Homo sapiens: one gene and its partners. The protein of the gene in region 3 purifies or fractionates together with the protein of the main gene of each other region. This does not show direct contact. Each region holds a gene or a part of one and is shown on either strand. Other genes may lie near its edges.

Region 1 (2,592 bases), on a different chromosome or scaffold from region 3:
CCCCCTGCTAAGATAAGGATCTTAATAAATAAAAGTGGAAGAATGGACAAGATAGCATCTGCACATGGCTTGATGTACACATCATCACACCAAACAGAATTTAAGACAGGAAACTAGATTTAAACACAACAGGCTTGGAAGAAATTAGGGGGTTGATTCATTAATACCTGTGGAAAAGAAAATCTTTAAAATGGTAACAGAAGGAATAGGGTGGAGATAGAAGAAAAGAAACAAGAAAAAGTTGGCTGCTATAAAGAGACATCTGAAATAATTCTACAGTAAGAGAATGACTAAACAGTGCTAAAATACAATAGTGGGATTACATTCACCACGGAATCACCAGTTACAGCCAGCGTCGCCTGAAATACATTTTCCAGCAAGGAAGCTGCATTTTCAGGACCTTCTCTGTTATTCACACCATGACTTTCTTTTCCACAACCAGTTAGGACTTTTGCCACAGACAACCTGGTGGGAGGCTCGGGTCAGTGTCTGTCAGTGCCTGAGGCCAGCTGAGTTAGAGGAGGGTGACTAAGAAGAAAAGAAGACAACTGGGAAGGATTCCAGGCCCAGGGCCATTCTTGCTCTTCGCTTGTGCACATTACAGGCTGTTCCGAATATTAAACATGACATTAAAAAAGATGCCTCACTCACCTGAAATGCAGAAATATTTATTTTGGTTTCCTTCATTGTTTTTGGAAATTTTGTTTTGGTTTATAAAACATAGAAATAGCCAACACTTAAAGCAAACATTCAAAACCCCAAGGTGACAAATTATTGACTTTTTGTGCAATTAAGAATACATATATGAAGTTAGGCTACCAAGTAGTGTTATTACAATGACAATTCTTTAGTGCAAGCCCTGTTGTGCTTGTATATAATACATGTACTCTCACAGACCCCAAAACAGCTGCTTTAAATGTACAAATGACAGCTCAATTCAGTCAAATGTGGCAAAGACTCACAATAAAGTGAACTGCTGTTAATTTCCCAAATTAACTTTAAAAAATCCCTGGAGAAGTGAATCCCAGGAAATGAACTTTCCAGATTTCTACATCCTAGAATTTTGGCTTGTCAAACACATTTCATAGAAATCAGGTAGCATTATAAGAACATTTGCTTATTACTGTCCATTTCAATAAGTACTCAAGTATATACTCCCTTAATAGCTTTAAAGAAATGCTTGCCTGAGAGTTTATTTTTTGGGGAAAAAGGCAAGTTAATCCCAACATGATCTTTTGATATGAAAACCACATTAAAAATCTGTTGGCCTTTACACAGAGTGAGTGGTTCAGTGAAGATAAAGTAGACAGTTATTCAGGCGTCACAGCTGAGCATGGCTGATCCAGGTAACTCTTTCTTGAAATGCTTGTCTTCACTATAGAATCTAAGGCAGATTTTTAAATAACCCCTGAAAAAGGATGGAGTCGGGGAATCAGGCCTGGAGAACCGAGTCCAAGAGCATTCTGCCATGAAAGAGAATCCACGCGTTCTGATGAGCACCCATTTGCCAGAGGCTCCTTATCTGCATGGTTCTGAGTTGGATCTGCCCTCCCGCTTACTGGAAACCTTATGCTCCAACAGAAACCACAGGGGACTGGAGAAGAACATGAGTTTCGTAACCCTTACGAATCAGAAGGGTTCTGTGAATGCCTGTGAGAAGGGACAGTAGCAGGGATTTAAAAAGATCTCTGGTCCGCTTGTGAGATTCTCCAGCCAGGACAGTTGTTCTTATTTTTAAAGGGAACACTTCCCTCTAGTGCACTGTACTCTTTAGAGCAGCAGACAGCTGCAGAATTTGCAGCAAGTAGCAGACATCTCAGAGATAGCAAAGTCCTAACCCCTTGATTAGAGAAACAGGGAGACAGAAGATTTAAAACCCACTTTTTAAACTGAGGAAGTCTCAAATAACTTAGCACATTTATAGTATCCCCTTTACAATTTTTAAGGCTCATTTTGGAAAGTGTGTATTACCATAAACATGGTCTGCAACATGAGGTGACTGTAAGGCAGTGTTCTCTTTCCTCTAGCATTCCTATGAGAAGAACCCCGAATGGACAAGTCAAACACGAACGCTTCCTTCCCTACACTTGCTGTATTCAAAATTAACAACATGAAGGCCATCAGCAGGAGAAGAGATTGTGGAACTGTGCCATTTCCTCTGAGCTTTCTTCTTCACACTAAACCTTGATAGTGGAATAGAGGTCATCTATCTGCGACCTGAAATAGTTCCGCAGCTCTGGCCTTTTCGCCTTCATTGTTGGAGTCAGAAGGCCATTGTCGATAGAAAATAATTCAGGGTGCAATGTGATGCCTTTGACCTGCCAATAAACAAGGCAGTTAAAAGAGGAAAAAGGACACGGGCCACCAGTCTCAAAAGCACGTAAGCCTTGGAGGGGATCAACACTCTCCAGCCATCCAATCCATCCTCTCATTTCAGCCAAGCTGCACCTTCTCAACAAAGGACAGGCATCCTATTCTTAGGATAGGATTCGGGATCATATTCTGATATCCAGGAAAAGAGAATAAATGCTTTTGATTTAAAAACCTTTCCCCTGTCAAACTACTCCATTATTTATTCCTCATGTATGTCTT
Region 2 (3,655 bases), on a different chromosome or scaffold from region 3:
TAAGCCACCCAGTCTGTGATATTTTGTTGTGTGGCAGCTTGAGCTGACTAAGACAGGCCTGAAGCACCATCTATTCACTGATGCCTCCCCCACTGGAGTCTTTGGCCCGGACTTCCCTGTGAATGCCAGACTCGCACACACCCCAGACACCTCCACTCAACAATTTCAGGACCTGGCTCCAGTCCTTCCCAAAACCTGTGAATGCCGTAGCTTCACCAGCTCTGGCCCTCCTCATTCAGATCCTTGGATTCATCTTCAACTCCTTCAAAACCACTTTGTACTACCTTGGCCCCAAGTGACACTGCCTGGGCCCCTACAATGCTTTATTGGGGCCCCTGGCAGTCTGGCCCTGCTTGCTCTCGGACCTACTAGAATGGGAATGGGACAGCCATAGCTCTTCATACTCTCCCTGGTCACATAAAGCCCTTTCTCTACTCTTTTGCTTTTGGAGACAGGGCCTTGCTCTGTCACCCAGGCTGGAGTACAGTGGCACCATCATAGCTCACTTCAGCCTCAAACTCCTGGGCTCAAGCAATCCTCCCACCTCAGCTTCCCAAATAGCTGGGACCACAGGAGCTACATCCAGCTAATTTTTTTTTTTCTTTTTTTTTTTGAGGCAGAGTCTCGCTCTGTCGCCCAGGCTGGAGTGCAGTGGTGGGATCTCGGCTCACTGCAAGAATCGTTCAAGCGATTCTCCTGTCTCAGCCTCCTGAGTAGCTGGGATTAAAGGTAACCACCACCATGCCTGGCTAATTTTTCTATTTTTAGTAGAGATGGGGTTTCACCATGTTGGCCAGGCTGGTCTTGAACTCCTGACCTCAAGTGATCCGCCCACCTCCCAAAGTGCTGGGATTACAGGCGTGAGCCACGGCACCCGGCCCATCCAGTTAACCGAAAAAAAAAAAAAAAAAAAAAAAAAAAAAGTATATGTATATGTATGCTTTTTTTTTTTTTTTTTTTTGGTAGAGACGTGATCTCACTATATTGCCTGGGCTGGTCTCCAACTCCCAGCTGAGTGTTCCTCCTGCCACAGCCTCACAAAACCCTGCGATTATAGGCATGAGCCACTGCGTCTGACCAACAAAGCCCTTCCCGACACTAACTCCCTGGCTTGATTCTCCCTGCTTGACTTATCCTTCTTGGGAGTTCCTATGATTTATTTAGCAAGCTGGCCATTTTTCTTTTTCTAAAAAAAAATTATTTATTTGTGCATTTTTTAGTAATAGAGACGAGGTCTCCCTAATGTTGCCCAGGCTGGTCTCAAACTCCTGGGCTCAAGTGGTCCTCCTGCCTTGGCCTCCCAAAGTGCTCGGACTACAGGTGCGAGCCACCACCCCTGCCAAACTGGGCATTTTTTGGGGCTTCATGTCAGTTTCCCTGGGGCAGGGAGTTTGCCTGTGTAGATCCCTGTTGTGTCCTCTACCCCTAGGACCTGGCCAGGTACACAGTGGGTGCTCACAGTCCTTCGTGGAAAAAATGAACAAAGAATTACTTCCATTCCTCCTAACCTAACTCCCTGTTTTGTTCCACATTAACGTGGCTCAAACAGGAATAGGGCTCAGAAGCATTATCTGTGGCTGGGCAGACAGACGACCTCCTTTGACAGCTGCCAAGGTGGGTAGCCAGCAGTCAGGGGCCTATTGAGACCGCAGTGTTACCTGACGAATTGCTCACACTGCCGGTGGATCCTGCCATCTGCAGGAAGGGGGCTGGCAGGATGATTCCTGGGAGTAGTAACTGTCAGCTCTTAGGGAAGAGAGCTGAGGAATTCCCCAGCCAGCATGGGCCTGTGAGAGACTGTCAAAGGCACAGTCCTTTCCTGATGTCTTTCCAGGGAAGCTGTGACATGGCCGTCGACAGATGCTATGGTCTGAATGTTTGCCTCTTCCCAAAATTCACATGCTAAAGCCTATCTCCAATGTAGTGGTATTAAGAAGTGGGGCTGGCTGGGCACGGTGACTCACGCCTGTAACCCCAGCACTTTGGGAGGCTGAGGAGGGCGGATCACGAGGTCACGAGGTCAGGAGATAGAGACCATCCTGGCTAACATGGTGAAACCCCATCTCTACTAAAAATACAAAAAATTAGCCAGGCACAGTGGTACGTGCCTGTAATCCCAGCTACTCGGGAGGCTGAGGCAGGAGAATCGCTTGAACTCAGGAGGCGAAGGTTGCGGTGAGCCGAGATCGGGCCAATGCACTCCAGCCTGGTGACAGAGCAAGACTCCGTCTAAAAAAAAAAAAAAAGTTAGGCCTTTCAGCCAGGTATGGTGGTTCACGCCTGTAATCTCAGCACTTTGGGAGGCCGAGGTGGGCGGATCACCTGAGGTCAGGAGTTGGAGACTAGCCTGGCCAATATGGTGAAACCCCATCTCTACTAAAAATACAAAAATTAGCTGGGCGCAGTGGTGCACGCCTGTAATCCCAGCTATTAGGTAGGCTGAGGCAGAATTGCTTGAACCTAGGAGGTGGAAGTTGCAGCGAGCCAAGATCACGCCACTGCACTCTAGGCTGGGCAACAGAGCAAGACTCCATCTCAAAATAAAAAAGAAGTTGTTGATCAAAAATTTAAAAAGGGCTGGGTGCAGTGGCTCACGCCTGTAATCCCAGCACTTTGGGAGGCAGAGACAGGCGGATTACCTGAGATCAGGAGTTCGAGATCAGCCTGGGCAACACAGTGAAACCCCGTCTCTACTAAAAATACAAAATTAGCCTGGCATGCTGACACATGCCTGTAATCCCAGCTACTTGGGAGGCTGAGGCAGGAGAATCGCTTGAACCTGGGAGGCGGAGGATGCGGTGAGTCAAGATCGCACCACTGCACTCCAGCCTGGGCAACAAGAGTAAATCTCCGTCTCACCAAAAAAAAAAAAAAAAAAAAAAGTGGGGCCTTCGGGAGTTGATTCAGTCAGGAGGGCTCTGTCCTCATGAATACGAACTGTGCCCGTATAAAAGAGGGGGAGCTTGTTTGTCCTTGCCACCCTGTGCAGATACCTAAAAGGTGCTATCTATGAGAGATGGGCCCTCACTAGACACGGAATCTGCTAGCACCGTGATATGGGACTTCCCACCCTCTACAACTATGAGCAGCTCATCTCTGTTGTTTATCAATGGCCCAGTCTGTTTTGTTTTTTTGAGACAGGGTCTTGCTCTGTCACCCAGGCTGAAGCGTAGTGGTGCAATCTTGGATCACTATAGCGTCAAACTCCTGGGCTCAAGTTATCCTCTCACCTCAGCCTCCTGAGTAGCTGGGACTAGGGATGTGTGCCACCACGCCCGGCTAATTAAAACAATTTTTTGCAAAGACGAGAGACATATGTTCTCAGGACCTCCTGAGGGCTGTGTCACGGGTGAAAAACAAATTAAAATTAAATTTTTTTGTAAAGATGAGGTCTCACTATGTTGCCCAGGCTGGTCTCGAACTCCTGGGCTCAAGCAATCCTCCCATCTCAGCCTCCTAAATGCTGAGGTTAGAGGCATGAGCAATGTGCCTGGCTTCCAGTCTAAGGTATTTTATTACAGCAGCCCAGATGGGCTAAGACCTACAAGCCAGTTAAGGGAGACCAGCAACTCCAAGTGTAACAAGGAACAAAGGCCCCAGAGAGCCCCACAGTCCTTCATGCAGCTCAGCAGGATGTGGCTGGATCCTGGCAGCT
Region 3 (3,225 bases):
GTTTTCTCACAAAGGCTGAACACCCAGTAATGGTTCTTTTGAAGCCTCACCCCTTGATTTTGGTCTTCAAAGTGACAGGATATGTATACCTGGACAAAAGTTCCCATGGCCCTGGCCCCTGAAGCTCAGCAATGAGCAAGAGAAGGTCACACTCCCACACACGTACACACACACCCCAGTCATACCACACTCAACACACTCACACATACCAACACACACGGACAAACTCGACCTTACTCACAGGTCCCTGCAGTCCCCACAGAGACTCACGTGCTCAGTGTTACATCCGGTGACCCTCATTCCAGCACACAAGGCGTTGGCTGCTCTCTCGTTATTAAATACCCTGAACTGAACAAATCCCGCAGTGAATTCCCCTGAAAACAAGAGGCAGAAAACAGCATTCAAGGAAGATGCTAGAAATTGCTTTCCTTAGGCCAGCCCAGAGGCTCTCGATGCCAAAGCTCAGGCTACAGCCCAACACTCCAGCTGTACTGGTGGAGCCCAGCACCCCTGTGGCCAATGGCTGCTACATCCTGGCCTCAAACTTAGCTAAGAGGGACCTTTTCCCAACCCCAGAGATGAAGAGCTGGTCCTCAGAGAGGGCTCCTCATCTGCCAGAGGCTTGTGAAGAGAAATTCAACTCTGCAGGAAGATCACCACTGAACATCTCCAAGGGCTGAGTTGCAGAAATTAACAGATGTATTCACTCTGTTCCTGTTTACATTTTTCTTTTCTCCTTTATTTTAAAATCTCAACTCCAAAATGTAAATAATAACAGCTTTGAGTTCTATAATATATGCTCAGCCTCTGCGGAGCGTACTATGCTACCAACTTTGGCTTCACACAAAATAAACTCACAATAGAAAAAAAAGTCTCGCCATTTTTTTGGTTGTTCTGTGCACATGGACCTGGCCTGGTCCTAACAAGCTCCTGCAGGGCTGAGAGTGGGTTGTTAGGAGTAAAGAGTCTGGAGTCTGGAGCCTGGCCGGGCGTGGTGGCTCACACCTGTAATCCCAACACTTTGGGAGCCGAAGGGGGCGGATCGCCAAAGGTCAGGAGTTGGAGACCAGCCTGGCCAACATGGTGAAATCACATCTCTACTAAAAATACAAAAATCAGCTGGGCGTGGTGGTGGGCACCTGTAATCCCAGCTACTTGGTAGGCTGAGACAGGAGAATCATTTGAACCTGGGAGGCACAAGTTGCAGTGAGCTGAGACTGCGCCATTGCACTCCAGCCTGGGCAACAACAGCAAAACTCCATCTCAAAAAAAAAAAAAGTCTGGAGCCAAATTTCCTCACCCCAGTTGCTGATTCTTCCACATATGCCTTGTGATCTTCACAAGTTTCTAAACCTCTCAGTGCTTCAGTTTCCTAAAATGAGGTTAATAAAGTTCAGATCTCAAAGGCAGCCATGCAAATCAAGTGGGGCAATATAGGGAACATTACAGGAGAGAACCAAGCTTCAGTCCGATGCATAACTGTTACCTAGCATAGTTGAATGTATTCCCTTTCCTACCAGGAGTTCAGAGGATCATTAAAGACTCACGCTGGCCATAGGGTGAGTAATAAGATGCTGTTTTCTGGGCGTCGCCAAAATCATAGACCACAGGGATCACCGGGCCGTTGTCAGTCCAACACTTTCCTTCTCCATATTTCACTGGATATTTCTACAAAGAACACAGAAAAAGTCATGGAGTAAAGACAATAGCTTTGCCATTACCAGCATCTCCTGGGATGCTGCCATTCATAGAGGAGAAACAATGCTTTCTCAGTAACTGAGATTACTTCAAAACCAGTCAAAATAAGAATCTTTCCATGACACTGCTGCCAGTTAGGCGAGAGCTGTGCTTCTGCGGCAGCCTGGACCACTTCATTATCTCTCTCTCCTTCTCCCTGACCCATCCACACTCTTCCTGCCCCAGCTGTCCTCTCCAATAGGTCCCTTCTCTTGCCTGGCTTAGAATTCCTAAGAGAAGCAACAGAAGCCATCAGCAAATCTGGGTTAGAAGAACATGGGAGACAGACCCATTAAAAAATGACTCCTGCCCAACCTCTAACACTTGCTTCTCTGTACACCCATGAAAACCAGTCCCAGCCAGCAGCCTTCTGTACCTGGTAGATGCCAAACAGATTATGTCCCAGTGTCTGGAGGAAGCCAGTGTCCGTGCGGTACCTCAGCAGGGAGCTGTTTCTCCAGTGCTGCATGGGGGACTTATTGGGCACGTGCCAGATGCCCAGGTCCTTGGCCTGGATGTCGTAGTAGCCAGGGTTCTGGAAAGCAACAGACACTGAGCCTGACTGGGCCAGGAGGTCCCAGGAGGCAGAAGGTCCACACATGCAACTTCAGCTGGACTGTGAGAGCTCTGGACTCCAGATGAGCAGATGGCCAACCATACTCAGACACCCCACTCCCAGCCGATGATCCCACCACACCCAGGGCCCTAACAGCCTTGTTAGGAGGAAGTTGTGATTCAAAGTGTAAATTGGCTGGGTGTGGTGGCTCATGCCTATAATCCCAGCACTTTGGGAGACCAAGGCGGGCAGGTCACTTGAGGTCAGGAGTTCGAGACGAGCCTGGCCAACATGGTGAAACCCCATCTCTACTAAAAGTACAAAAATTCGCTGAGTATGGTAGTGGGCGCTTGTAGTCCCAGCTACTTTTGAGGCAGAGGATCACTTGAACCCAGGAGGCCGTGGTTGCTATGAGCCGAGATCACACCACTGCACTCCAACCTGGGCAACAGAGTAAGACTCCGTCTCAAGAAAAAAAAAAAAAAAAAAAAAGATATAAGTATTTCTCTCTTCTTCTCCAGCCCATCCCACACCCCTACCTTCCAGCCATCCCTCCTGCAGGCTTGTGGCCAGCCACACTCCACTCCTCACCCTCACCCGAGTGGGTAAGAAGTGGCACCAACCTTGTAGTCATCGCTCGTGGCCGCCTCTGCAGATCCAAAGGTGTTGTAGTTGGCCCAGTTGCCGTCCCCCTCTGGGTAGACTGCTTTGCTGCCCTGCTGACTGGACCAGCGATCGCCCACCGTGCACTTCCCACGCATGTCATTCTCGTGCACGCTGGCCACCAGGGTCCAGCCGCCACCCCCAGAGGTCATGTCACAGAAGGTCTGGTAGATAACACCATTCTCAGTGCGGAGAAAATACAGGCCATCTGTAGAGAGAACCAGCCCAGAGCCTCCCTGTCTGAGAGCTGAGGGTTCATTTCAGCCCCA

The links.
Region 1: the proteins of ITLN1 (region 3) and ACSL1 purify together in Homo sapiens (affinity purification with mass spectrometry; one large-scale study listed by BioGRID and IntAct). This does not show direct contact.
Region 2: the proteins of ITLN1 (region 3) and NACC1 purify together in Homo sapiens (affinity purification with mass spectrometry; 3 studies listed by BioGRID and IntAct, with this or other methods). This does not show direct contact.

The regions. Positions count from the first base shown.
Region 1 is NC_000004.12:184,754,948-184,757,539, forward strand, and holds the end of ACSL1 (long-chain-fatty-acid--CoA ligase 1), read right to left. Parts: intron 2,319-2,592; coding exon 2,178-2,318; 3' UTR 648-2,177; downstream 1-647. UniProt on the Homo sapiens protein: Catalyzes the conversion of long-chain fatty acids to their active form acyl-CoAs for both synthesis of cellular lipids, and degradation via beta-oxidation. Preferentially uses palmitoleate, oleate and linoleate.
Region 2 is NC_000019.10:13,124,640-13,128,294, reverse strand, and holds part of NACC1 (nucleus accumbens-associated protein 1), read right to left. Parts: intron 1-3,655. UniProt on the Homo sapiens protein: Functions as a transcriptional repressor. Seems to function as a transcriptional corepressor in neuronal cells through recruitment of HDAC3 and HDAC4. Contributes to tumor progression, and tumor cell proliferation and survival.
Region 3 is NC_000001.11:160,879,041-160,882,265, forward strand, and holds part of ITLN1 (intelectin-1 precursor), read right to left. Parts: intron 3,165-3,225; coding exon 2,917-3,164; intron 2,273-2,916; coding exon 2,114-2,272; intron 1,669-2,113; coding exon 1,548-1,668; intron 375-1,547; coding exon 271-374; intron 1-270. UniProt on the Homo sapiens protein: Lectin that specifically recognizes microbial carbohydrate chains in a calcium-dependent manner.